2 separate regions of the Homo sapiens genome follow, and region 1 is linked to region 2. A link means that fine-mapping ties the variant in region 2 to the plasma level of a protein whose gene starts in the linked region. Region 2 holds a variant in brackets. A gene starts in the other region. All regions are shown on their reverse strands.

Region 1 (14,335 bases), not on the chromosome of region 2:
TTTCTCAGTTTGTCTTATTTTTTATGATCTTGACACTTTTGAAGAATACTGATCAGTTATTTTGCGGAATGCCTCCAGTTTGGGTTTGTCTGATGTTTTCTCATGCTTGGAATGAGCTATGCATTTTTGGCAGGAACGCCAAGGAAGTATCCTCTGTGAATGGTATCAAGAGGTTCATGATGTCAGCATGTCTTATTATTGGTGATTTTGATGTTCATCCCTTGGTTAAGGTGGTTTCTGCAAGGTTTCTTCACAATAAAGTTACTATCCTTCCTTTTATAATTAACAAATATCTTGGGGGAAATACTTTGAGACCATGCAAATCTTACGTTTCTTCAAACCGTCACCTGCTAATTTTACCATCCATTGATAGATCTTGTCTGCAACAATTACTGTAGTGTTTGCCTAATGATGATTTTCTATTTCCCTTTTTCCTTCTACGTTTATTAATTAGAAGTCTACTGTAAGGAGGAACTGTCCTTTCTTCCCTATTTGTATGTTTATTTATTCTGTAGGTTAAATCCGATACTATCATTATTTTTTTTCCAAAATTTTTCTAGCTCTGACCATTAGGAGCTCCTTCAGCTTGGACTCTATTATTTATTTATTCAATAGACTTTACTTATTTAGAGCAGTTTTAGGTTAACAGCAACATTGAGCAGAAGGCATTGATACTTCCCACCTACTCCCTGGTCCCCCCCACATGCACAGACTCCCCTATTATCGACATCCCCTACCAGAGTGGTACATTTGTTACAATTGATGAATCTACATTGACATCAACTAAAATCCATAGGCATTGTGTTTCAGTGGGTGCAGTACATTCTATGGGTTTAGACAAAGTCTAATGACATGTATCCCTCATTATAGTATCATACAAAGTAGTTTCTCTGCCCTAAAATGCTCTGTGCTCTGCTTATTCTTACCTCTCCACCCCCTATTTCCTGGACATCACTGATCTGTTTACTGTTTCTGTAGATTTGCCTTTTCCAGGGTATCATATAGTTGAAATGTCGTGCAGTCTGTAGCCTTGTTTCAGCCTGGCTTCTTTTGCTTAGTAATATGCGTTTAAGCTTCCTCCATGTCTCTTCACAGCTTGATAGTTCATTGCTTTTCAGCACTGAATAATATTCCATTGTTTGGACATACCACAGTTTATTTATCTAGACCTTATTCTTTTGACAAATCCACATCCTTTGTGAGCATTTTCTGACTTTCTATCACCACAAAGTGTTCCAGCTTTATCTCATATTTTTCCTGCTCTAGCACTGAAATCAAGCACTTTTCAAGGAACCCTAGTTCTTTTAATTGAATAGTGCTTAGAATAGAACAGTGCTTTGAAATCAAGACCTAGGCACTAGGTATGCTCGTAGATACTGGGTTGCATTTGTTCTAGACCCTCTCCGTAGAGCTAGGAAATATATGTATTTTACTAATCTGTACATATATACCATCTATATTTCTTGCACCATGGTTTGATGAAAGGAGTGGCCATGGTTGCAGAGATAAAAACTATGTATGGTCCCAACAATATGGGTTTCCTTACCCTAAGGCTAATTTAGCTACTGCCACAGCCCAATGTTCCACCTGCCAGAAACCGACCATTGCTGAGCCTTTGTGTATCAGACCTCTTCCAACTTGGAATGGGCAATGTTTCATTCTGACTGGGATTGATACATATTCAGGGGTCAGATTTGCCTTTCCTGCCCACAGTGTCTCAGCCAGCACCACTATGCTAGGGACCAAATCAGTGTCTGATCTACTGGCATGGGATACCACATTACATTGCCTTTTATGGCAAAGAAGTTATGGCAGAGAGAACATTCATGAGATCCACTGATCCTTTTAAAAACTATACCATACGGAAGTTGCTGGCCTGATTAAGGATTGGAACAGCCTGTTGAAGGTATAGCTGAGGTACTAGTTTAGAGATGATATTCTGCAAGGATGGGGCAACATCCTTTAGGCTGAATAGACACCTTAAACCAATAGACATTAGATGGTGCTGTGTCCCTAGTAGACAGAATACATGAGTCAGAGAATCAAGGGGTGGAAGAAAGAGCACCCCTGCTCATCCTCATACCCCTCCACCCAGGCAGCCAACAGCCAATGCCATGGGGAAACAAAAGACCAGCCCCTCAAAGGGCACCAAGAAGGGGTATGACTCTGTGTTCCTGAGCTCCCTGGGGACACGATGGAAGTGGTCTCTAGCAGAGACCACACCTTTGCTTGGCTTTCTTCCCCTGAACTTGTCTGCTTCCCTTGCTCTCCTTCTTGGAGTGTGCTCTCAATCAATCACTTCCTCAAGAATCCTTGTTTCAGGCTCTGCTTCTAGAGAGATGGTGCTGATTGGGAATTTTTATTCAATTAATGTCATACTTCCCATCTCTTAAATATTCTCAAATAATAAGATTTCTAATGGCCACACGATGTTCTATTATGTGAATATAGTTTATTGAACCAATCTGATTCTAGACATTTAGGTTATTCCTGAGCTTTCACTATTATAAATAATTCAGAGAAGAACATAATTGTTGCTAAGCCTTTGTAAACATTCTTAATTATCTTTTCAGGTTAAATTCTTATGGGTGAAGTTACAAAGTCACTGGTCACAAACATTTTGTGGCTCTTAACATAAATATCAAGAACCTTGGCCTCTAAGAGGACTGTACCAGTTTATGATCCCACAAAGAAAGCAACTTTTTTTCATTTTTGCCAACCCAGAGAATAATGATTTTTAGAAGTATCTGCAAATTTTATCGGTGACTTATTATCTTAATGTGTTTTACTTTGGTTACTTGGCAGTTTGGTTATTTGTAGTTCTTTGGTGAATTGTGTATTCAAGACTTTTGCCCATTTTCCCATTGATGTATTTTCCTCATTAATTTCTTTTTCTTTTCTTTTCTTTTTTTTTTTGAGACAGAGTCTCACTCTGTCACCCAGGCTGGAGTGCAGTGGTGTGATCTCGGCTCACTACAATTGAGTTCAAGCAGCTCTCCTGCCTCAGCCTCCCTAGTAGCTGAGACTACAGGCATGGGCTAATTTTTTGTATTTTTAGTAGAGACAAAGTTTCACCATGTTGGCCAGGCTGCTCTTGAACTCCTGAACTTATGCGATCTGCACACCTCAGCCTCCCAAAGTGTTGGGATTACAGGCGTGAGCCTGGCCCCTCATTAATTTCTTTGAGCCTTTTTTTTTTTTTTTTTTTTTTGTAATTGATTGAAAGTACAGGGAACTTTCAATTGTAGATGTAAAGGGCACCATACAGCTTTTCACAGAGTGCAACGACAGGGTAGAAGTACCATGGCCCTGTCCCTTCATTTCACAAGAGAAGAAACTGAGTCCTAGGAACATCCAGGAAAATCTGGCATTGATTGGGCCAGGCCTCATGACTCCCAACAGAGTTCTTGCTCCACCATCTTTGTCAGAAGTGAGGGCTAAGAGCTGACAGAATAACAGACACTACTGCCAATCCAACATTAATCATGCACTTAGTATATGTCATATTTGGTGCAAAGCACTCTGTGTATATGATCTAATCTTCTCAAAACCCTGATAGATATGTGCTATTATGACTACCACTTTACAAAAAAGGAAACTGAGGCACAGAGAGGGTGAAAAACGTGTAGAGGTCATCTATGCTAGGAACCCTTTGGAAGAAGGAAAAGAACATTCCCCACGGTTGTGCCCTAACATAGTCACAGCTTGTCCCTGGTGCGGTTCTTTTCCTCTTCCCTTCCCCGCTGCTAAAGTCATTCTGTGCACCCAATTCTGTAACTTGCTTTTCTTTCACTCTATGTTTCATGTTGCTTCGTGGATTTTATAGCCATCATTTTAATGCCCTGCATAATATTCCTTTGTTGAGCAGATGCTAAATTCTTGAATTTAGTGTACTCCCACTGAAGATGTTGGGAGAATTTCTGGGGACCCCTGCTGTCTCCCCTGCAGTTCCCCCTGGCTTGATAATTCCCTTTTCACTTCATGCCTTGAGTGAAATGATACAAATTTAACTTGCAAATTGCCTAAGGATGTCTTTCATAGTTGGAGGCATCTGTAAATTATATGCAAATATGTGTGCAGCCAGGGGAATTCTTCCAATGCTTTGACCTTAAGAAAAATCTAGTGGAGATGAGTGTGTAAATGGTTAAAATTTCTTCTCTGAGCCTCAGTTTCTCAGTCTATAAAGGGGTGAACTAACCTGCTTGTGTGAGCTGCATGTGTGAGACTTTAAGGAGAAATTACATGGTATAGAATTATGAAATCCTATCAATTTAAGGGGTACAAGTACAGTTTTATTTCATGTATATATTGTATAGTGGTGAAGTCTGGGCTTTTAGTGTAACCGTCACCTGATTAGTGTACCTTGTACCCATTAAATAATTTCTCATCCCTTATGCTCCTCCCACTCTTCTAAATCTCCAGTGGCTATTGTTCCACACTCTATGTCCATGTGTACACACTGTTTATCTCCCAACCGTAAGTGAGAATATGCAGTTCTTGACTTTCTGCTTTTGAGTTGTTTCACTTAAGATCATGGCCTCCATTTCCATCCATGTTGCTTCAAAAGACATGATTTTATTCCTTTTTATGGCTGAAGAGTATTCCATTGTGTGTGTGTGTTTGCACCACATTTTCTTTAATCGTCTATTGGTGAACACTCAGGTTGATTCCATATCTTTGCTTGAACAGACATTTCTCTAAAGAAGGCCTACAAATGTCCAACAGATGTATGAAAAGATGCTCAATATCACCAGTCATCAGGGAAATGCAAATGAAAATCACAAGGAGATATCATCCCACACCTGTCAAAATGGCTATTATAAAAAAACAAAAAAGACAAGCGTTGGTGAGGATGAGGAGAAACTGAAACCCTTGTACACTGTTGGTGGGAATGCAAAATGGTGTAGCCGCTATGGAAAACAGCATAGAGATTTCTCAGAAAACTAAAAATAGAACTACCATATGATCCAGCATTCCACTTCTGAGTGTTTATCCAAGAGAACTGAAATCAGGATCTCAAAGAGATATTAGCCTTCCTGTGTTCATTGAAGCTTTATTCACAAGATGTGGAAATAACCTAATGTTCATGGATAAGTAAATAGATAAAGAAAATGTGACATATATATATATATATATATATATATATATATATATATATATATATATGATGGAATATTATCCAGCCTTTAAAAAGAAGGAAATCCTGCAATATGTGACAATATGGATGAACCTGGGGGATACTGAGCTAGTCACAGAAGTACAAACACTGCATGATTCTTATATGAGCTATCTAAAATAGTCAAACTCATGGAAGCAGAGAGTGGAATGGCAGTTGCAAAGGGGCAGGTGGAAGGGGGAGTTGGAAGTTGCTAATCAACAGGTATAACATTTCAATTATGCAAGATGAATAAATTCTAGAAATCTGTACAACATTGGGCCCATAAATGACCATATTTAAGCATTTTACACTTAAAAATCTGTTAAGGGAGTACATTTCACGTTAAAAGTTTTTAGCATAAATAATAATAATAATGATAATAATACTGATGCGTTTCTAGTATTGTTCATTTCTGGGTGCTTGAGCATGTTCAATTTAGTGTGCAGAACCTTGCTGACTCATCTGTATTCCATTTTGGAAGTTTTGTTAGGAAATACTCACAGGAAGTATGGTTTTGGTTCATGCTAGCTCAGTGGGTGGTTTTGGAACTCCTTTTGAGTTCCAGTAAGATGGGGCTTCTCAGGGGGTGCTGCAAACGAGTTGGGTTCATTTCGTTGTGTTTCCCGGGCCCTTCTGGATGTGTGGGACTCCTCCAGCTCCAGTTTTGCTCTCTGGTTTCCATCCCAGCTTGAAAGCTGTTTGGAGCGCTTGTTCCTCAAGGAACTCCATTTTGCTCCCAGTCCTGGGATCCTCGGTGAGCTGGAGCCTCTTTCGGGACCCTCGTCCTGTGGGCTCACTCTCTGTTGACTCAGCAGTCACCATCTTCTATTCCCCAAGGCATGAGCCCGCATTGCACCCACACTGTGCAGTCCTTCTAAAGGCAGCCATCTGGCACTGACCCTGAGAGGAAAGGAGGGCCCTGCCAGCCTATCCCAGAGCTTTGTAGCCTGCGTGGAGCCTGATGCCAACATGCGGTTGCATTTCTCTTTGTAAATGAATACAAAGCTAATAAGAAAAGGAAAAAGAACCTGGATTGCCTTTCTGAGCAAGGAAAAGAAAATTGTCTTCAAGTCTCAGAGGGCTTGTTATTCAGCCAACAGAGATCAGGTGTGTACATATTTTCCATCAGACTATGAAGTGCGTAAGTCTTGGACATCAAGGGAAATGCTGTGGGTTCCATGGGCTGTGGCAGCGCTGTGCCTGAGTGCTGTAGTGGGTCATAGTGGGAGCTTTGACGTCAAGTAGTCCCTGGCTCTTCTTCCATTTACTCAATGAGTGATCTGGGATAAAGGATCTCTCAACTCTGGGACTCAGGCTTTTGTTTTTAACATGAGGCTTCTCACAGCGCCTATTTCATGGGGGATTATCAGGAGGATTACATCAGATAACACACAGGACTGTGGTGTCTGACATGCTGTAAGTGCTCATGCATGTCAGCCCATGTTGTTGGTAGTTTTGTGGCCCTCATGATTTTTTCCTCTGTAGTCAGGACTTGGGCATCCTCTTCTCTGTTTCTGAGTAGTTGCTTTGCCATTAGAGTTTTCTGGTGTTTACTTTCATATTGTTGTGAGGTATTCATTTGCTTAAAATCATTTCCTCCTAAAGTGGGTTGTCCATACACCATGGCTCTGCATAGGGGGAAGAAAGCAAGAAGGCATGTGTGTGTGTGTGTGTGTGTGTGTGTGTGTGTGTGTTGGTGGGGGTGGGGGCGGGTGGGGGAAACGGCTGTGAGGGACGCAGGGAGATGGAGTGAGCCTGGCTCTACTGAATACATATAATCAATGGGTGAAATCGACGTGTTCGCAAAAGTTACAGGCCCTGCTGGGTGAGCTGCTTTCAGTGGTGTCAAGAAATGCATCTGTTTCATTACTCCTCTTCTTGGGATAAGGAATTATTCCAACATCACCTTCAAACCACAGCAGAAGAGCCTGGGAGTGGGAAGGTCATGTCATTCCCTCACAGTCCCTACTTTCTATCCAAGGGGTGTTTGGGGGTTAAAATATTCAACATAAACCTTGGAGCTTCTTTGCTTCAAAGAAGGGAAGGAAACAAATGCAATTGAGCTATGAGTATTTATTAATTCACTCAATATTTATTGTGCACTTATGTCCCTTTTTTCAGCACTATGGGTTCAGCAGCAAATGAGACAGACACAAACCCGGACCCTGCCTTTGTGCCGCTGAATGTCAGGTGGGAGAATGACATCAAGCAATTGTGCAGTTGTGATGAGTGCAAAGTTGTGAGGGTCAGGGGTGACTTTTCTGAGGACTTGCAGAAGCTGTGGCCAGAAGGGTGAGTGGGGCTGTCTCCAGGAGAAGAGGGGACAGGGAGGAGAGCGTCTCAGCAGGAGCGAGCCCTGCAGGAAAGGGCCTGAGTGGAGGGGGCAGGATGCTGGTGACCAGAGCAGGAGGGGCAGGAACATCCAGGACAGAAGGATCTAGAGGCCCCTGGGCTTAGCAGGATGTACCAGGAGTCATGGTGCAGTGCCTGGCCTTTGTCCTGAGGGCACAGGAAGGGAAGTAAGTAGAGAAAAGTGATCATATTTACCTTCAGAGAGGACCACTTTGGCTCCTGTGTGGATAATGAATAACCATGGGTGAACTGAGAGAGGGAGACCCTTATAAGGGCTCTGTGGTGTGCAGGTGACATGTGGTGGGAAGTAGATTCTAGAAGTACAGCAGTGGGGAGTGGGTGGAGCTGAAAGGAGTGAAAGAGAGATTGACAGATGAGTGAGTCACTGAAAGTGGGGGCTGAGAAGGAGGGCAGAGTGACACTAGGGTCTTGGTGGGGTGGGAAGTGGTTTCCCCAACATGGGGACACAGGAAAGAGGGTAGGTTTAACAGGGGGGATGCAGCTCAGATGTTCAATTTTGGACACACTGAATTCAGAGAGTGCCAATGAGACAGCACAATGGAGATGCCATGTAGCAGGTAGATATATGAGTTTGCAGCTAAAAATAAATCTGTGCTGATGATAAGGTATTATAGGCACCTCTTTTATTGGATGGAACCTAGTGGGTGATTTGATTCTTGCCAGCATAGCATCATGAACAGGGGTCAGGGAGTACACCTAGAACTTTCTGCAAGTAGGTCCATCTTTCTTTCTCTCTCTGTGACCTTCACCAATTTATCTGCCTTTCTGGGCTCCCCTAGCCTCAGCATAAAATGGTGATAGTTATGTCTACTTCTGACTACCAGTAGCACAGGTTTGAGGATCCATTAAACTGAAAATAAAACATGTGGGGCTCGTAGAAATAAGAACTATGTTAAAACAAGGAGTTATTATAGTTGTGCATAAGCCAATGAAAAGCAGAAATACAGCCCCAAGGCTCAGTATTGATTTTGGTCCTGGGTGCTTCCTGCGGCTGAATAAATCTGCCATTTCTCCCCTCGAGTGCTGGCTGAGCTGATGGCAGGTCTCCAGCTCCCAGCCTCCTTGCCCCTGCTCCAAGGTTATGTCCTTCCTTGGCTCAGGCCAGATCCAGCATGGCCACACCTGCCCCTGCTCCTTTGGTCACCCTTCCCATGCAGGGGATGGTTATGGGGAAGATTCCGGTTGTGAAATTGGAGCATGGCTAGCAGCAGATGCTCTCTGATTAAACTGGGGACAGGTCCCCGAGGAAAGTGGAACTTGGATCTGCAGAACAAGGAATTTAAGGAGGACAAAGGAAATGGCCCTAGACAGGGCTTTCATACTTCAGGATGCATCAAGGGTTATGGAATTTGCTTCATTCATTGAACCACTGGATAAATATTTGTTGAGGGCCCACTGAATGCCAGGTTCTGAGATTAGCTCAGGGATACAGGAGTGAAAAAGACAGTGTTTGCCCTCTTGGAATTAATATTCAAATTGAGGAAGAGAGAGATAATAAACAAAGGAGTAAAACACTCTTGAACGACTGAGCAACCAGATACAACAAGAGAGAATGCTGATGTGGCTGGGAGGGAAGTGTCTATCTTAGAAGGTGTGGTCAGGGAAGGCTTCAATGAGGTGGTGACATTTGAGTGAGACCTGACAGCTAAGAAGGAGTTGCCCTGTGAAAAGCAGGGAAAGGAACACTGTGGGCAGAGAGCCTGGCCAGAAGAGAGGACCTGTGGGGCCCAAGCTTGCTAAGTTTGCAGAACCATGAGAAGAAATCTGGCTAGAACCTAGGGAATGAAGGGCAGAGGTAAGGGACCAGATGGTGCAAAGCTTTGTGAGTCATGGGAGGGAATGTGAATTTTTGTTTTACTGTCATGGCAAGCTATTGAAAGGTTTTATTTAAGGGAGTGATTTCTATTTTAAAAAGATTGCTACATATATACAATGGAGTACTATTCAGCCATAAAAAGAATGAGATCCTGTCATTTGCAACAACATGGATGGAACTGGATATCATTATGTCAAGTGAAATAAGCCAGGTATGGAAAGACGAATGTCACATGTTCTTATTTATTTGTGGGATCTAAAAATCAAAATAATTGAACTTATGGACATAGAGAGTAGAAGGATGGTTACCAGAGGCCAGGAAGGGTAGTGGAGGGTTGCAGGGAGGGTGGGGATGGTTAATGGGTCCAAAAAAAACAGAAAGAATGAATAAGACATAGTATTTGATAGCACAACAGGGTGACTATAGTCAATAAGTTAATTGTACATTTAAAAATAACTAAAAGAATGTAATTGGATGGTTTGTAACACAAAGGATAAACACTTGAGGGGATGGATATCCAATTCTACGTGATGTGATCATTATGCATTGCATGCCTGTATCAAACATCTCATGTACCCCCTAAATACAAACACCCACTATGTACCCACAAAAATTTTAAAAAGAGAAGGCTCTCTTAAAAAAAGATTGCTCTCACCTGAGTGGATAATGGGTTGCAAGGGAAAGGAAAGAAGGAAACCAGCCAAGAAGCACCGTCGTTCTTCACGTGAGAAGTGATGGTCTTGTGGACTCAGGAGTATCTGTGGAAGTGGGGTGAAGTGGGTGGCTCCAGGGGGTGTTCGAAAGTGGGATGGACCCCCTTTGCTGATGGATGGGAGGTGAGGGGCGAGGAGATGGATGAACTGGAGATGACTTGTGGGGTTCTGACTTAAGCAGCCATGTGGATGCGGATACATTCACTCTAACAGGGATGAAAGGAGAACACAGAGGCATGGAGGACATCCAGACTTCTGTTTTGGCCTGGTCACAGATCTGACGTGCCCGTGGGGCATTGAGGAGATGTAAAGTATGAAGCTGGAGGTACAGTCAGAAGTCATTGGAATTTCTGGGCTGGAAATGTACCTGGAGGATCTCAGCATAGGACTGGACTTGGGCACCTGGGGAAAGGGTTTTGGGGGAGAGAAGAGGGATAGGTCTGAGCCCTAAGAAGCACTGGAATGTCAGCAGGAATGATGGGGGGAGCAGGAAAGCCAGGAGGGTTGGAGCCACGGGAGCCAAAAGAAACTGCTCAGAGGCCACACTGGGGAGGATCGAGGGTACCCACTGGATCTGGTGACTTGGAGGAGGCTGCTGATGGTGACAAGTCATTTCAGTTAGTGAGGATGAAAGGCAGATTGGAGTGGGTTGAAGAATGAGTTGGAGGTGAGGAGGCAAAAGTGACATTTAGGGACAACTCCTTGGAGAGATCTTGCTGTCACACTGGGCAGATAAATGGGGAAGTGCTGCTTACTTGGGTTTCTATGAACATAAGAAACAGTCTCTTCATCATTTCTAAACCTCTCTCCCACTCTGATGCACCCACCCACAGCATTCCATGATAAAATAAACCGTGGATGATGTGCAGTCCCCAACATAGTAGCTGTGACTCCATTCCTTTTTCTCCCTTTTGAGAAAGTTTCTAGGAATGCAAATCAGGCAGAGTAATGTTGGGAAAACCACAGATCTGCTGACTTCCACACATTCAACTATTATATGTAACCAAATTATTTGTAGCGCAACTTATTATTGATCACACCATACATTATTGTTGGCATGCTGGCTGAGATGTGTTGTTGTTCCAGACATGGTTGGGTGGCATTCATTCATTAAATCATTCATTCATTTATCAAATTTTTTTGAGCACTAACAATGTGTCAACTCTGGGCACTGGGAGAAGTGGTGAACAAGACAAAGATAGCCTCTGCCCTCAGGAGCTCTAGCCAGGTGGGGAGGCAGACATAGAGTAAGTGATATCAGTTGAGCTTACAGCCAGAGAAGCACTGTGTTCTCAAAGACAGCATCACTGCAGGTGCTGGCCTGGTCCACAGGTGTAGCAAGAGTCTCTGAAGAAGTGAGGATGAATAAGCAGAGAGCAGAATTAATGAGACTTGTGCTGGGACTGGGTATGGACAGCAGCCCAGGCAGAAGTGAATACCCAGGAGTGGAGGGAGCCCATTTCCACTGGGGTCAGGGCCAGCCCGTCCAGAAGGTCAGAGGAGGAGAGAGTGGGGTGAGAGGCGGGGTCCAGATGTGCGGGGCCTGGGGGCTCCAGCCAGGAGATTGGTCTTTATCAGGAAAGCATTGTGAAGAATTTTGTGTTGAGGGGAGAGGGGTGATGGGATGGTCAGACTTGTTCTGAAAGAGCGCTCAGGTGTCTGGGGAATGGGGTGTAGTTGTACAGAGAAAGGTGACAGGCCAGTATCACTTGTATACAGGCAGGGGAAGACATTAAGTCCCTTCCAGCCCTATTTCACCAAACATTGCTGGTATTTGGAAACGGGGTGGGGGATGGGGCAGGACCAGACTTCTGCTTCTCAGTGTTCTGTCCCTGTAGCCTGATCTGTTTTTCCTCTCTCCCCTCCCTCCCATCTAGGGGAACTCAACAGGTTAGTGCTGGGGCCGGTTCTCAAGGGGCAGGACAGTGGTAAGCATGGCATAGGGCATGGGAGTGCAGAGATGCAGGTGGGTGCATGACTTGGGATGGGCAGTGCAGATATTCACTTATCCAGGGAATGGCAGGACGGTGGTTATCAAACTTTGCCATGCATAAAAAACGCCTCGGGAGCTCATTAAAAGTGCAGACTTGGAAGCTTTCCTAAGGAATGCTGACTCAGCAAGTGGGGCGGTGGGGCAGGAATCATTTTTAGGAAGTTCGCTTCTCTCTCCACCCAGGTGATTTTGATCTAGATAACCCGACGGCCTTCCTTTTGAGAATGCCTCCATGCTGGCCTGCGTCTTGGCCTCATATCCTCAGTCCCCTCTTCTGTCTCGCACCAGCCTGGGCCTGAAAGCTGATTTTAGCCCTGCATTAAGATGTGAATGACCCAGGACATAGGCGTGGGCAAGGACTTCATGTCCAAAACACCAAAAGCAATGGCAACAAAAGCCAAAATTGACAAATGGGATCTAATTAAACTAAAGAGCTTCTGCACAGCAAAAGAAACTACCATCAGAGTGAACAGGCAACCTACAACATGGGAGAAAATTTTCGCAACCTACTCATCTGACAAAGGGCTAATATCCAGAATCTACAATGAACTCAAACAAATTTACAAGAAAAAAACAAACAACCCCATCAAAAAGTGGGCGAAGGACATGAACAGACACTTCTCAAAAGAAGACATTTATGCAGCCAAAAAATACATGAAAAAATGCTCATCATCACTGGCCATCAGAGCAATGCAAATCAAAACCACTATGAGATATCATCTCACACCAGTTAGAATGGCAATCATTAAAAAGTCAGGAAACAACAGGTGCTGGAGAGGATGTGGAGAAATAGGAACACTTTTACACTGTTGGTGGGACTGTAAACTAGTTCAACCATTGTGGAAGTCAGTGTGGCGATTCCTCAGGGATCTAGAACTAGAAATACCATTTGACCCAGCCATCCCATTACTGGGTATATACCCAAAGGACTATAAATCATGCTGCTATAAAGCCACATGCACACGTATGTGTATTGCGGCATTATTCACAATAGCAAAGACTTGGAACCAACCCAAATGTCCATCAATGATAGACTGGATTAAGAAAATGTGGCACATATACACCATGGAATACTATGCAGCCATAAAAAAGGATGAGTTCATGTCCTTTGTAGGGACGTGGATGAAATTGGAAACCATCATTCTCAGTAAACTATCGCAAGAACAAAAAACCAAACACCGCATATTCTCACTCATAGGTGGGAATTGAACAATGAGATCACATGGACACAGGAAGGGGAATATCACACTCTGGGGACTGTGGTGGGGTGGGGGGAGTGGGGAGGGATAGCATTGGGAGATATACCTAATGCTAGATGACGAGTTAGTGGGTGCAGCGCACCAGCATGGCACATGTATACATATGTAACTAACCTGCACAATGTGCACATGTACCCTAAAACTTAAAGTATAATTAAAAAAAAAAATAGAAGTAAATTAAAAAAAAAAAAAAAAAAAAAAAAGATGTGAATGACCACGTTCCGGGCTGGGGCGGCCGGGCTGTCGGGCAGGCAGCGCGCGGCCACCAGGGGGCGCCAGAGCCTTGGCTCGCGCGCTCGGCCTCCTCCGCCCGCGGACGCCGCGCCCGAGCCAGCGAGCGAGCAGAGCACATCGCTGCGGGCTCACAAAGCGGCCAGACGCTCGGCGGCGGCGTGTGGCAGGAGCGCAGGGGCGCGAGCCGGCGATCAGCCTTCCCGGCGACCGTGCCGCGGGAGCTCGAGCAACTCGGACTAGGGGACCCGGGCCGGCCCCCAAGGTACGTGCCCAGAGGAACCCCGCGCCCCAACTTGGAGTAGTTGGGACCTCCCCGCGGCCGCCTAGGGGGCTGGCAGGGTCAGGGCCTGGGGTTACCTCCGCGCGCCTTTCTTACCCCCGAGACCTCAGGGCGCTCAAGGGAGACCTTTCCCTTAGCTGTCGCCGGGGACCCCCAGCTGCTGGCAGCCCCCACCCCGCTTGCCGGAGCTCGGGTGCTGCTGGAGCCCTGTTCTCCCCTCTCCTGCCCCAAAGCCGTGTGCACCGCACCGTCTGTGGGAGTGCGGCGTGCGGACCCGGGCTCCCCGCTTCTGGGGAGGGGTACCAAGCCCCTGATAGGAGGGCGGCATCTGTGGGGCACTCGGAGAATAGACGAGACGGGTCCCCTGTAGTTGGACGGCAGCCTCGGATTCGTGACGCAGCCTCCTCGTTCGTAGATGAGTCCCCCATTCGTGAGAGGGGTCCCTGGGTCTAGAGGCGCGACAGGCGCCCCAGGTGCGCGAGCGCTGCCCGTGCCCGCCGCGGGGTCCC
Region 2 (14,413 bases):
CCCTTGAAAATCTCTTAAATCATCCAGACAGTACTATAGAACAAAGTTCAAGTCCAACCTAGCCCTTTTTTCTTTTGTAATTCCAGCAATGAAATAGTTATTTATTCAGCTGAACACCAGGTGAATTAACTGGTGTGCATTTAGGAGCAATATTGCACAAAATCATGAGTAAAACAAAGAAGAGGAGGACAAAGATCAGAGGAGGAGGAAGTAGGGGGAGGTCTAGAGCCTTTAAACACTGTGTTCATAAAATGACCAAGTTGCTAGGACTGTGGGAGCCACAGAGAAACATGAGGTTCAAATCGTCTGACCCTGGGGCATATGGTGAGATTCTACACTGTACTAATATGTGGATGATATTTTTCTCTCTCTCTTTCTGTTTCTTTTTCATAACGTAAAGTGTCACAACATCACTGTGCAAATAAAGAATAACTAGGGTCTTGAGACTTAGGTTGGTTTAACTTACTGAAGTGCATCGTGTATCTTGAGCCTACCATTTTCACTGTTAATTTTGATCCAGTCATTGTGGGTCAGTAACATTCCTTCTCTCCCCACCAAACCTAGTATCCTTTGGAAATGCTGAAGGTAACTGACCAGCAGGATCAGGAAAGATGCCTGCAGCAGTCAAGCTATCAGCTCGCTTCAGCCTAAAAAAATATAAAATACATCACACAAAAATAAGGATTCAACATGCTTCTGACCATGGTTGAATAATTGCTATTTTATGTTCTTCGTAAAGCTCTAAGAAATGAGAAGCCAAAAATAAACACTGATAGATGGAAAAGGGGCTGAATTCTACTTGGAGAGTCCATTCCTGAGGGACTCATGACTTATGCAGAATCGATACAGCAGAGTGCGTGGAATGCAGGTGGTTACATAGAGACAATCGGTAGTTTCTGATTTATTAAGGTGTTTTTGTTTGTTTGTTTTTGAGATACGGTCTTGCTCTGTGGGCCAGGCTGGAGTGCAGTGGCATAATCTCAGCTCGTTGCAACCTCTGCCTCACGGGTTCAAGCGATTCTTGTGTCTCAGCCTCCAGAATAGCTGGGATTACAGGCACGTGCCACCACACATAGCTAATTTTTGTATTTTTAGTAGAGATGGAGTTTCACCATGTTGGCAGGCTGGTCTCGAACTCCCAACCTCAGGTGATCCGCCTGCCTCAGCCTCCCAAAGTGCTGAGATTACATGCGTGTGCCGCCGTGCCCAGCCTATTAAGCATATTTTTAAATGGCATTTTGACACTAACTTTGCAATCTCATAAATATTCTAAATAAATTTGTCTAATCTAAATTATTCATGAACTAAAATTGTACCCTTGTTTCTGGCTGACTTGCAACACCTTTAAATCGATCTATGTTCTCTCCTTCTGTCAAGTAATAATTCAATTCAACTAATAAATTCACTAAGCACCTATTATTCCCAAATAATTCTGATTTGATTTAAAAAGGCTTTCTTGAAAACAAAAGCATCTCCCATAGAGATTTTGGGCACTTGGCAGGTCCACAAAGAGAAGAAGCCTATGTGTGCGCGCCTGACTCAAGATTCACAGACGCTCTGTGGCTCCCCGGCCAGCAACCAGACTCTTTACTTGAGTGTACAGTAGAGTTTGGTCATTTCTGTGTTTTGGTTTTGTTTTTTTGTTGTTGTTGTTTTGAGACAGTCTCAAAAATATTTGCTGGAGTGCAAATTTATTTACTTTTTGAGATGGAGTCTCACTCTGTCGCCCAGGCTGGAGTGACCGTAATCCCAACAGGCTGAGGCAGGTGGATCACATGAGGTCAGGAGTTTGAGACCAGCCTGGCCAACATGGTGAAACCCCGTCTCTACTAAAAATACAAAAAGTAGCTGGGTATGGTGGTGCATGCCTGTAATGCCAGCTATTCAGGAGGCTGAGGCAGGAGAATTGCTTGAACCTGGGACACAGAGGTTGCAGTAAGCCATGACAGAGCAAGACTCTGCCTCAAAAAAAAAAAAAAAAATAGAATACACACAGGAACTCTTTTTTAAAAGACTGCAAAAATTCAATCACCTAACAGGCAAAGTGACTAGATCAGGAAGTGTCTTGAACTCAAATGTCAATTGAGATCAGGTGAAATTCAATGAACTGGAGGTGAGGATGGTGAAATCATAAGACAGGATGAGCTCTGCACCGAACAGGAGGGGACGCCCATCTGCAGGGTCAGGCCCCCATAGTCCAGTAAGATAAAGAAAGCCACCTGGGGCAGCTGAGCACTAAAACTGTGCCTAATCCAAATAGAAAGGCACTCAGTGTGAAAGACACACGCAGCTCGGTTAGACATGCACACGTATAATATATATTACTACTTATACGTAAATATATAAATTATATGTATACACATATTTATAATGTGTATTTCAAATATGTTTTATAAATATTCTATTTATATCATAAATATTTCAAATATATAATTTATTTCAAAATAGATGGGGCTGGGCATGGTGACTCACAACTATAATCCCAGCACTTTAGGAGGCCAAGACGGGTGAATGGGTTGAGCCCAGGAGTTTGAGACCAGCCCGGGCAACATGGCGAGACCCTGTCTCCACAAAAAATACAAAAAGTAGCCAGGCGTGGTGGTTCACGCCTGTAGTAGTCCCAGCTACTCGGGAAGCTGAGGTGGGAGGATGGCTTTAGCCCTGGAAGACAAGGCTGCAGTGAGTCAAGACGGTGCCACTGCACTCCAGCCTGGACGACCGAGTGAGACCCTGTCAAAGAAAAAAATAAACGAGGCTGGGTGCGGTGGCTCACGCCTGTATTCCCAGCACTCTGGGAGGCCAAGGCGGGCGGATCAACTGAGGTCAGGAGTTCGAGACCAGCCTAATCAACATGGAGAAACCCCGTCTCTACTAAAAATATAAAATTAGCTGGGCGTGGTAGTGCATGCCTATAATCCCAGCTACTCGGGAGGCTGAGGCAGGAGAATCACTTGAACCCGGCAGGCGGTGGTTGCAGTGAGCTAAGATCGTGCCATTGCACTCCAGCCTAGGCAACAGAGCGAGACTCCATCTCAAAAAAAAGAAAGAAAACAAACAAAATAGATCAAAATCATGTTTAGACATGTTGAGTGAAAGAGAATATAATATTAAAGTTGATTTTATCTGTTTCTTTTTGCTATGTTTAATGTGACTACTGGAAAATCTGACAGGACCCATGGGGCTCACATTATGCTTCTAGGCGAGAGTGCAAGGTCAGACCCCACTGGCTCTGGCAGTCGGCACCCAGCTGATCGAGGAGCTACTCACTGCTACAAGGTCACCAATCTACCCAGAGAAGCCAGGCATTTCAACATCTGTGAGAATCTCCCCAATTCCAACCTCCCTAATGGTATTTCTCACTCCTTCAAGATCCACAACACCTGTTAGTCCTCTACATCTTCAGAAGTTCCCGGAGGCCTGCGTTTCCCATTTCCCTTCTCCATACGGACGAGTGACGCTTTTGGGCGGGGTGTTGCCTCTAGTGTCTGTTCCCACACGCTCCTTCCTAATACCTCGACCCTCCCTGGCACTTACTTGAGGAGGACGAGCCCCATCTCCAGATCCAAGGGTGCTCCTGCAGGCTCATGCCAATCAAAACATCCGGCTCTCCACACACCCACCCCTAGACGTTCAATTCTGGGACCTGGGTCGTGTTTTCAGAGACTCAACCTCAGAGGTTCTCCATGGGCCTGACCTGGGATTCAGGGAGACCCAGGAGGGGCTGGCGAGAAGATTCTGCCAGGAGAGGGAAGCAGATGCAGGAGACGGAGATAAGTGGACTCCTGTCCCTGTCCTCTGCTGGAAAACCACCCTGAGGAGGCCCTGCCTCCAGCCTTCTTATGGCAAAAGCCATTACATTCCCTTTATTGTCCAAGACAATTTAGGTTGGGTTTTCAATTCAACTTAGCTTTCAATTCAATTACTCAAGGCTGAAGATCTCTAAGCCACACCACAGTAATAGCTTAGCGCCCTTATTGTTAGTTTATACACAATCCATCGCAGTCTCTCATCCCCTCAATCCTTCCATTATGAGTCCTTTGGCCTCCTCGGAATTCCAGACCATTGACCTCTGCCCCCTCGGACCCACAGTCCCTCCGAGCTTTTCTCCCAGTTCTGGGGAGATTCCATGCTCCGCCATTTCAATTACTTTCTTGTCAACACCTTAACCACTCCCGTCCCCCAGTCTTTCTGTAGTAAGCGTGTGAGCATCTGGAACAACGCCAGCCCTGGAGAGTCTCCAGGTCAGCTTTCTCCATGGCAGCCCCAGGCACTGGCGCCTGCTGGGGGACCCCCGAGGCAGAGGGTAAGTGGAGATCTGTGAGATGGGATCCCAAGTTGCTCACTACTGCGTCGGAACCTCTCATGCATTTTCAGTGACCAAGCGCACCTGCTGTATGCCCAGCACCGCTGGGGCAACGAGGGTTCAGTAAAGAACAAAACATGCACAAATCCCTGCCCTCCAGGTGCCAACTCTCTTTTTTTTCTTTTCCTTTTTTTTTTTTCTGTTTTTTTTTTTTTTTTTTTGAGAAGGAGTTTCACTCTTGTTGCCCAGGCTGGAGTGCAATGGTGCGATCTCGGCTCACTGCAACCTCTGCCTCCCGGGTTCAAGCATTTCTCCTGTGTCAGCCTCCCGAGTACATGCCTGGGATTACAGGCATTCGCCACCACGCCCGGCTAATTTTGTATTTTTAGTAGAGACGGGGTTTCACCATGTTGTTCAGGCTGGTCTCAAACTCCTGACCTCAGGTGATCCGCCCGCCTCGGCCTCCCAAAGTGCTGGGATTACAGGCGTGAGCCACTGCGCCCAAGGGCCAACTTTCTAGAGCAGGGAAAAGGTCAATGAGCCAGAAAATTGCAAATCTCCTCTATGTCAGAGGCAGGTTTTTGCTCGGGAGGAAAACCACCAGCCCCAGGGAGACGGGGAGACAGTGTGTGGTGGAAGGGGCTGCCATTTGAGAAGGGTGGGCAGGGGAGTTCCCGCTAAAGAAGGTGACCTGAAGGTGGCTGGCGCAGTGGCTCATGCCTGTAATCCCAGCACTTTGGGAGGCCGAATTGGGTGGATGACCTGAGGTCAGGAGTTCAAGACCAGCCTGGCCAACAAGGTGAAACCCTGTCTCTACTAAAAATATAAGAATTAGCCAGGTGTGGTGGCGCACGCCTGTAATTTCTGCTACACAGGAGGCTGAGGCAGGAGAATCGCTTGAACCAGGGAAATGGAGGTTGCAATGAGCTAAGATCGTGCCACTATACTCCAGCCTGGGTGACAGAGAGAGACTTGGTCTCAAGAAAAAAAAAAAAAAAAAGCCTGAAGGTGATGAGGCAGCGAACCACGTGGATACTGTGGGGGAAAAGATGAAGAGCTAACAAAGTCCAGCACACAGAAGTAGAGAGCAGAATGGTGGTTCCCAGAGGCTGTTGGGGGGCTTGGTGGGGGGCAGGAGGAGGAATAGCTTGTACAGCATGGTGACCATCATCAATAATAACATACTGTATATTTCAATTGCTTAAAAAAAGATTTTAAATGTTTTCACTACAAAAAATAATAAGTACAATTGCCGGGCGCAGTGCCTCACACCTGTAATCCCAGCACTTTGGGAGACTGAGGCGGGTGGATCACGAGGTCAGGAGATCGAGAGCATCCTGGCTAACATGGTGAAACCAGGTTGCTACTAAAAAATATAAAAAATTAGCCACGCATGGTGGCAGGCACCTGTAGTCCCAGCTACTCGGGAGGTTGAGGCAAGAGAATGGCATGAACCCGGCAGGCAGAGCTTGCAGTGAGCCAAGATCATGCCACTGCACTCCAGCCTGGGCAACAGAGCCAAGACTCTGTCTCAAAAAAAAAAAAAAAAAAGGTACAATCACCCCTGGGAATCTGTGGATAACAAAATCCAAGGATGCTTAAGTCCCAGATATAAAATGGCACAGCATTTGCATATCACCTTCACACATCCTCCTGTATACTTTAAATCATCTCTAGATTACTTATAATACCTAATACAATGGAAATGCTATTCAATAGTTGTTCTGCTGTATTGTTTGGGGTTTTGGGGGGGTTTTTGGTTTTTTGGGTTTTTTTGTTTTGTTTTGTTTTGTTTTCGTGGCAGAGTCTCGCCCTGTCACCCAGGCTGGCGTGCAGTGGTGCGATCTTGGCTCACTGAAACCTCTGTCTCCCAGGTTCAAGCGATTCTCCTGCCTCCGCCTCCCGAGTAGCTGGGATTATAGGCGCATGCCACCACGCCTGGCTAATTTTTGTATTTTTAATAGAGATGGATTTTGCCATGTTGGCCAGGCTGATCTCAAACTCCTGACCTCAGGTGATCTGCCCAATTCGGCCTCCCAAAGTGCTGGGATTACAGGCGTGAGCCACCGGGCCCGGCCTGTGTTGTTTTTTATTTCTATATATTTTTTAACATTTTGATCTGTAGTTGCTTGGAACTGCAGACATGGAACCCACAGATACGGAATACTGACTGTCTTCAAGGTGATAGACATGTTCATTACCGTGATATAATCATTCCACAATGTATTCATAGTCCAAAACATCACATGGTATCCCATAAATATATATAATTACTAGTTGTCAAACTAAAAGTAACAATGTAAATTTTAAAAATAAATTCAAATAAACAAAAAATAACATCAGTGGGTATTATATCAGAATATCAGAAAAGCAGGTGCTATGGGCCTGACGTGGGATGTGCTGGGCTTTGGGAGTTCACAGGGGTCTGGGAAGGTTATGTCACTGAGGGGCCCACAGCGCAGAGGATAGCAGGTCCTGGCAGAAGCCTCGGCGTGTGTTGGATGTGAAGCAGAGAAGAGATGCAATCTGGCTGAGCATTTCACCAGACTCAGCCTGACTGCTGTGTTGAAAGTGAAAAGAGACAAGCTAAGAGGCTTTGGCAATGAACCAGGGAGGGCTGGGGTGGTGACACCTTCCCTCTCCTCCAGCCTCTGAGGTCCTTATCTGTCCTGCTACCAGCAGCTCATGGCCTTGCCTCCTCTACAGAGAAAGTCACAGCTGCAAGACAGGCACACCGTCAAGTGCCCCCCACCATGCCCACCCCTCTGGCACATGCAGGCCTCTGGGCCTCTCCCTGAGGTCCCAGCAGAGGCCACACTCCTTCTCCAGCTCACCCCTCCCCAACAGCTCAGGAGTTAACCACCCCCACAGTCATGCCTCTCCCTGTTTCCTCTTCCCACTCACATTCAGGCAGCATCAAATATGCCCGAGCCCCTTAGAAGGTTTCCCCAGCAACCCAGCATCCTCCCCGAATCAGGCTCTACTCTCTCCTCCCCTGCTCATCGCAAAAGGACTTCTGGAAATGAAAGTGTGGCACACATTCACCGTCTCCATCTCCCATGGCTGCCCACTCCTGGGCTTCCACCTGCCACTACTCCTGCGGAACAAGATCAGACAAGATCTCCACGGACCTTCAGGTGCCAACCCTCACTGCCCCTTTGGCGTCTTGAGCAGATGGGCCTGTTAGCAACATCCAGCCTCGCTAACCAGCCCTTCTGCTTGGGAAATTCCTCTTCTTCGGCTTCCCTAAGTTTTCTGGATTTCCGGGGCCCTCTGCCTTCCCAGCCTGTCTCCTTTCTGATCATGTTATATCCCAGTTTGCCCCACCCCTAGTGCAGGACTAAGCAAACTTCATCCCACACTCAGCTTCTCATCTTCAGCCCGGAAGCCTCTCGGAGTGCCCGTGGGTTGCAACTGCCCTAATTCAACAAAAACTTACAGTGTGTCGTCTGACAGGCACCTCGCAGTCAGCATGTTAAGACTCTCCTGCCCCAGCCGAGCTGGCATCAGCCAGCATTCCACGTGCAGGGACCTGCCCACAGTGCACACAGCGGCACAAGCCAGGCCCCTGGAAGTCCCCCTAGTGCTCTTCTCTCCCCGCTGCCACAGCATCGCAGGGTCCTTCCAGATAGTATTCAGATCTATACACTTTTTTTTTTTTTTTTTTTTTTTTGAGATGGAGTCTTGCTCTGTCGCCCAGGCTGGAGTGCAGTGGCACGATATTGGCTCACTGCAAGTTCCACCTCCCGGGTTCACGCCATTCTCCTACCTCAGCCTCCCGAGTAGCTGGGATTGCAGGTGCCCGCCACCACGTGTGGCTACTTTTTTTGTATTTTTAGTAGAGACGGGGTTTCACTGCGTTAGCCAGTGAAACCCAAAATTATTACTCTAACTTTCCCCTGCCTTCCTGTGTAAAACCTGACCATAAAGAAATTATCCCAGGCCAGGTGCGGTGGCTCACGCCTGTAATCCCAGCACTTTGGAAGGCCGAGGCGAGTGAATCGCCTGAGGTCAGGAGTTCAAGACCAGCCTGACCAACATGGTGAAACCCCGTCTCTATTTACTAAAAAAATACCAAATTAGCTGGGTGCGGTGGCACATGCCTGTAATCCCAGCTACTTGGGAGGCTGAGGCAGGAGAATCACTTGAATCCAGGAGGCAGAGGTTGCAGTGAGCCGAGATCACGCCACTGCACTCCAGCCTGGGCAACAAGAGCAAAACTCCATTTCAAAAAAAAAAATAATAAATTATCCAAACTACCTTGTTTGATTGCAAGTCACAAAGCTCCCATTCCAGAGCGGGCCTGCCTTGTACCAGAAGGAAAGAAGGCTGCACAGAGGGGCGAAGATGAATCCAGACAGACTCGCCTTGCTGGGCCTCCCCAAGCAGTCTATCGGTGTTCGATCAGACCCTTTTCATCCCATCCTATTCCCATGTGGCTGTCCGTACCTTGTTGAACCTAAGCATAAACTGGCCAGTCTCTCGTGTCTCTGGGTCTTCATTCTGAAGGCTCCCATGTCATGTAAAACTATGACCAACACAGGTGTGTGCCGTGTCTCCTATGAGTCTGTCTTTGCCCAGCTGGTTTTCAGTGAACCCTCAGAGGGGGAAAGGGAAGCTCTTCCTTGGACCCTACGCCCTCTGGAACTAGGTCGGCTCTATTCAGAGTCCTCTCTCTGTCATCACCCTACACTTCTCTGTCATAGCACTGATCGTATCACAATCAGACAAATGTTTGGGTAATTACGTGCTTGTGTCTGTCTTCCATGCTAGAATGCTAGACTTGTCTTCCAAGTGACAATGCTTAGCATCGAGCTGATGTGCGCAAGCTGTCTGTGGTTGAGCGGCTGCCTCCTGAGGACAGGGACTGCTGACGCCGGCTCTGTGTGTAGCGCCTACACAGCACTGTACCCATGGGAGACGCTCAAAAAATATCTGCTGAATGAAGATATTAACAACTTTCTTTTTGTGTGATACAGGGTCTCATTCTGTTGCTGCCCAAGCTGGAGTGCAGTGGTGCCATCATGGCTCATCACAGCCTCAACTTCCCTGGGCTCAAGTGATCCTCCTGCCTCAGCCTTCTGAGTAGCTGGGACCACTATGCTCAGCTAATTGGTGTATGTTTTGTAGAGATGGGGTTTCACCATGTAGCCCAGGCTGGTCTCAAACTTCGGAACTCAAGCAATCTGCCTGCCTCAGCCTCCCAACGTGTTGGGATTACAAGAGTGAGCCACAGCGCCCAGCAACAACTTTCAATGGCTATCTTTGTGGTTTTTTTTTTTTTTTTTTTGAGACAGAGTCTCACTCTGTCACCCAGGCTGGACTGCAGTGGCGCAATCTTGGCTCATTGCAGCCTCCACCTCCCAGGCTCAAGCAGTTCTCCTGTGTCAGCCTCCTGAGTAGCTGAGATTACAGGCATGCACCACTATGCCCAGCTAATTTTTGTATTTTTAGTAGAGACAGGGTTTCACCATGTTAGCCAGGCTGGTCTCAAACTCCTGACCTCAAGTGACCTGCCTGCCTCAGCCTCCCAAAATGCTGGGATCAAAGGCGTGAGCCACCGCGGCTGGCCTCAATGGCTATCTTTGGACGTGGAAAAATTAGTAACAAGATCTTCAAAAAACAAACAAAACCAAGGAAGGCAGAAAAAATAAAATAGCCTCCTTGTCTGAACTTCATCTGCATTCACACTTTCCTTTGACTCCTCAAAAGAAAATCTAGAAAACCTGAAAACTTTTCCTCATACTTTTTTTTTCTTCCCAAATGCTTGACACAGAGAATTCAGAATGATGCGGCCAGAAAGTAGCCGGGCCTGGAAGGGAAAGTACTGCCTTGGATGCAAAGGATGTTTGCATTTCTTCCTTCGCTTTCTCTCCTTTCTGGTCCGTGTCCTGTAGTGCTCCGATCTGCCCCCATTATCTAAAATGCTTCCCATTCCGACAAACACACCTTTGC[A/C]CTCTCCGTTCCAGATGGAGAAACACAACAAACACACAGTCACCACCCCGCTGCACCAAGTCCAGCTATGAGTGTGACAACATTTGCCATCATTCTGATGTCAACACACTCCTGGCTGGACTGAACTGCCCCTTGGGCTTCCCTGCTCTGGGCCGAGGAGGACCAAATGCTCTATTTTGTTCTCTTCCCGAGACCATCTTCACGCATTTCCCCAGTACCCTTGGCAGCTCTGCAGACAATACCCTAGGCATGCAACTCAGTTATCTAGTGAATATCTGATATCAAGATGTAGAGCACGGGTCAGAAGGCCTTTCCTGGAAGCAGACAGAGAGGAAATACCTTTGGGTTCGTGGGTCAGAGGGCCTCTGTTCTAACTACTCCATTCTGCCCCTGAGAAGCAAAAGCAGAAATGTGAACAACACGTAAGCGTATAATAGTATAGCTGGGGCCACTACAACTTTATTTACAAAACTGGCAGGGAGGCTGCGTTTCACCCCGGGCAGGCAGCAGTTTGTCGCCCTGGTTTTAGAAGATGATTTCAGTGTTTCCAAGGACTAGCCTCCTGTTTTAGCATAACGGGGGGCACCCTTTGAAACAACTCCACAACTTACTCTCGGCGTGAATATTTTTTACATCCACTCCTTGTGCAGTTTATCCCCCTCCACAGGTGACATGAACTTGGTTCTCTAGGTGTCAGACTCTATTTTTTCACTTACCAGAGCTGCTTTTAATTTTGAACTTCACCGTTAGAAACTGACCTAGACCAATTTCCCCGGTTCCGTGAGGACGGCCTGGCTCTCCTGGCAAATGTTCATTCTCAGGGGATCAGAGGGGGGTGGGGACCCTTCTGACCTCTTCCTTCCAACCTCACCACCAGGTGTGCCCTACAATGAGAGGAACTCTCACTCCAGATTCAGCCACACACACACAAAACGGTCTATTCTGCTGGGCTGCAGAACTCTCTGTGTTCTCCAAGCACCCTGCCCGAAGGATCGAGTCCACACTGGACCATACTGGCAGCCACACTAGCCAATCTAGTTAAGCCAGATGACAGAGGGTTATGGCAGGGATGCAAGACCAAATAGAGCTGGCAACCCCTCAAGGGCTGCCCAGCAGGTGAGGGCTCCCTGACTTCTTGGTCAAAAGCCTGTGTCGTCTTCCCAGTGAACCACATATCTTAGACACTACTAATTTCTTTTTGTTGAGACGGAGTCTCACTCTGTCACCCAGGCTGGAGTGCAGTGGTACAATCTCGGCTCACTGCAACCTCTGCCACCTGGGTTCAAGCGATTCTCCTGCCTCAGCCTCCCGAGTAGCTGGGACTACAGGTGCCAGCCAACACGCCTGGCTAATTTTTGTATTTTCAGTAGAGATGGGGTTTTACCATGTTGGCCAGGCTGGTCTTGAACTCCTGACCTCAGGTGATCTGCCCGCCTCGGCCTCCCAAAGTGTTGGGATTACAGGCGTGAGCCACCGCGCCAGCCTAATTTCTGAAATGCTTTATGCTAATGAACAAATCTTCTGACGTGGGTTGCTAATGTTACATTGCTTAGGAGACATCTCTAGAGTGTAGGTGCCACATTAGGGTATTCAGAATACTCGCTAGCAGCTCACAGGTTATACTTAAAGGAAACTTACACACCCTGAACACTTTATACTGAAGAATATTTAACGTGACACACAGACAATACGACATCAATTCTCAAGTTATTGATCCCCCAGATTTTTTGCCCAAGAAACACATTATTCCATTCTGTCACCTACATCTTCTAAAAAACTACTAGACAGCAGAAGCTTTAGATTTTCCTGTCTTTTTTTCCCAGTATTTTCCCTCTATCATGAAGGAAATCACAGGTTTTTCTCTCCTTCATTCCCCACACTCAACTGCCAAGTCCTGTTCATTTTACTTCTTAAATATGCCAAACCCAAATACATACATGATTTTCAACTACACACAAATCTCATGGCCTTTCATGGTGCAATCCTGTTTTTGGCACAAAACTGAAGGTGTCGCGTGGCCCTGTCTCCCTCTCCAGCCACATCTCCTGACCCCACCTAGAGAAGGGTTCATCAGCAAAGCCCTGTTCACATGTGGAGCAGGGTCACTCTTGGGGAGGGGCTGCCCTGTGCACTACAGGGTGTGGAGTGGCGTCCCACTCAATGCCAGTAGCCCCCAACACTAGTGGTGACAGCGAAGTATGTCTCCAGACCTTGCCCAACGGCCCTGGGGGCAAAATGGCTCCCCCTCCTCGGCACATCCTCTGTGCCCCATGCTCTTCCGGAGGCAGAGTCGCTGATCTACAGGATTCTGTGCTGTGAAGGCTGCGTGACTCTCAGCTCTGGAAGAGATGGTCTCTTCCCATCCCATTGGTTGACGCTCTGCCTAAGACGCCTCCCCCTCCGTTCTCCCACCTTGCTAACTAAGGCCCATTATGCTGATTAATAGCTCACAACTGTTGTTGATGAAAAGAGTCAAACTCTGTAAAATATTAAGAGATTTATTCTGAGCCAAATATGAGTGACCATGGCCTGTGACACAGCCCTCAGGAGGTCCTGAGAACATGTGCCCAAGGAGGTCGAGGTACAGCTTGGTTTTACACATTTTAGGGAGGCATGAGACATCAATCAAATACATTTAAGAAATACATTGGTTTGGTTCAGAAAGGCAGGACAACTCAAAGCATGGGGGTTGCGGGGAGGAAGGGCAGTTCCAAGCTATAGGTCAATTTAAACATTTTCTGGCTGACAATTGGTTGAGGCTTGTCTTAAGACCTGGGATCCATAGAAAGGAAATGTTCAAGTTAAGATAAAAGACTGTGGAGACCAACGTTCCTTTGAAGTCTTACGGTGGCTGCCCTTAGAAACAATAAATGACAAATTTTTCCTCTTCAGATCTTTAAAAGGTGCTAGACTTTTAGTTAATCTCTTCAGGATTGGGAGGGCATGGAAGAAAAAGATCTAGCTATGTTAATGGAGATTTTTTTTTTTTTTTTGAGACTGAGTCCCCCTCTGTTGCCCAGGCTGGAGTGCAATGGTGTGATCTCAGCTCACTGCAACCTCTGCTTCTGGGTTCAAGCAATTCTCCTTCCTCAGCCACCCAAGTAGCTGGGATTACAGGTGTGTGCCACCACGCCCAGCTAATTTTGGTATTTTTAGTAGAGACGGGGTTTCACCATGTTGGCCAGGATGGTCTCCAATGCCTGACCTCAAGTGATCCACCTGCCTTGGCCTCCCAAAGTGTTGTGATTACAGACGTGAGCCACCAGGCCCGGCAGAAATTCTTTACAGATGCAGATTTTCCTCCCACAAAGGATGGCTCTGCAGGGCCATTTCAAGATATGGCACAGAAGCATGTTTTGGGGTTAAATATTTTGATTTTTTTTCTTGTCTCATAATGTTATGCCAGAGTCAGACTGGAAGGTAAGTCACGATATACAGTGTCAAATAAAACCCATCTGATGGGATTTTATGGTTTGTAGGGCATGACTCCCAGACCCCTTAGACAGGAATTTGGGCAAGATAAAAAAATCAGAGCTTAGTCCTCACTATGTTCCAGACACTGCTTTAAAAACGCTGAAAGTGTATTAACTCTTTTAATTCCATTCACAACCCATATTGGCATCCTCATTATGAAAAAGAACACTGAGCCACAAAGCAAACTTGGTCTGGACCTTGCCATTTTTCAACAGGGAATGGGCTTGGAAGGCACGAGAAGGCTTTCCCTGACCTCTGATCTGGGATCGGTCCCCACCTATATGTCCCCAGAGGATTCTGTGCTTCCCAGGCCAATACATTCATGAGGATTTAGCACCCTTACTTATAGATGGGGTGTTGCTTTACAATGACCAACTTGTGCAAGAATAGAACCCCTTCTTTTTTTCTTTAAATTCAGTCTTACCTAATTCTGACCTCCTATTCTGCCAGGCTGATGGGAACTCCAGATTTACGTATTTGGGGAACTCCTTCACCAAGTGTCCAGGGTCAGTTGAAGGTGGTCTCCGGGGTCTTTGGCAGAGATTTTGGAGGAGAACATCCAGTCCTCACTGCTCATTGCTGATTAGATCACAGGGACTCTCAGTCACCAAGGGAACCTCCCTCCCCGCCCGTCCAGGACACCAGCATCATTTCCTCAAGGAGACTAAGCTTTCACAAGGC

Direction of the effects. Alleles are on the strand shown, and positions count from the first base shown. The strength of an association depends on the size of the effect and on how common the allele is.
As copies of A replace C in region 2, the plasma level of the protein whose gene starts at base 13,661 in region 1 goes up (weak association).

Evidence for each region. PIP is the posterior inclusion probability: the model's chance that the variant is causal. Protein levels are from antibody-based Olink assays in UK Biobank. Linkage for the fine-mapping came from a reference panel and not from the study's own genotypes, which makes the PIPs less certain.
Region 1: SPOCK1 starts here. The variant in region 2 is fine-mapped to the plasma level of the SPOCK1 protein (UK Biobank, PIP above 0.99).

The regions. Positions count from the first base shown.
Region 1 is chr5:137,498,652-137,512,986 of GRCh38, reverse strand. It overlaps SPOCK1 (SPARC (osteonectin), cwcv and kazal like domains proteoglycan 1), which reads left to right and starts at 13,661. Exons shown (of 11, transcript NM_004598.4): 1 at 13,661-13,808. RefSeq lists a silencer at 13,491-13,710.
Region 2 is chr12:128,857,509-128,871,921 of GRCh38, reverse strand. All of the region lies in intron 1 of GLT1D1 (glycosyltransferase 1 domain containing 1), which reads right to left. LOC124903084 (a long non-coding RNA gene) reads left to right here and starts at 207. Exons shown (of 3, transcript XR_007063603.1): 1 at 207-324; 2 at 3,171-3,316; 3 at 4,184-4,324. The variant A/C (reference allele first, on the strand shown) is at 10,259.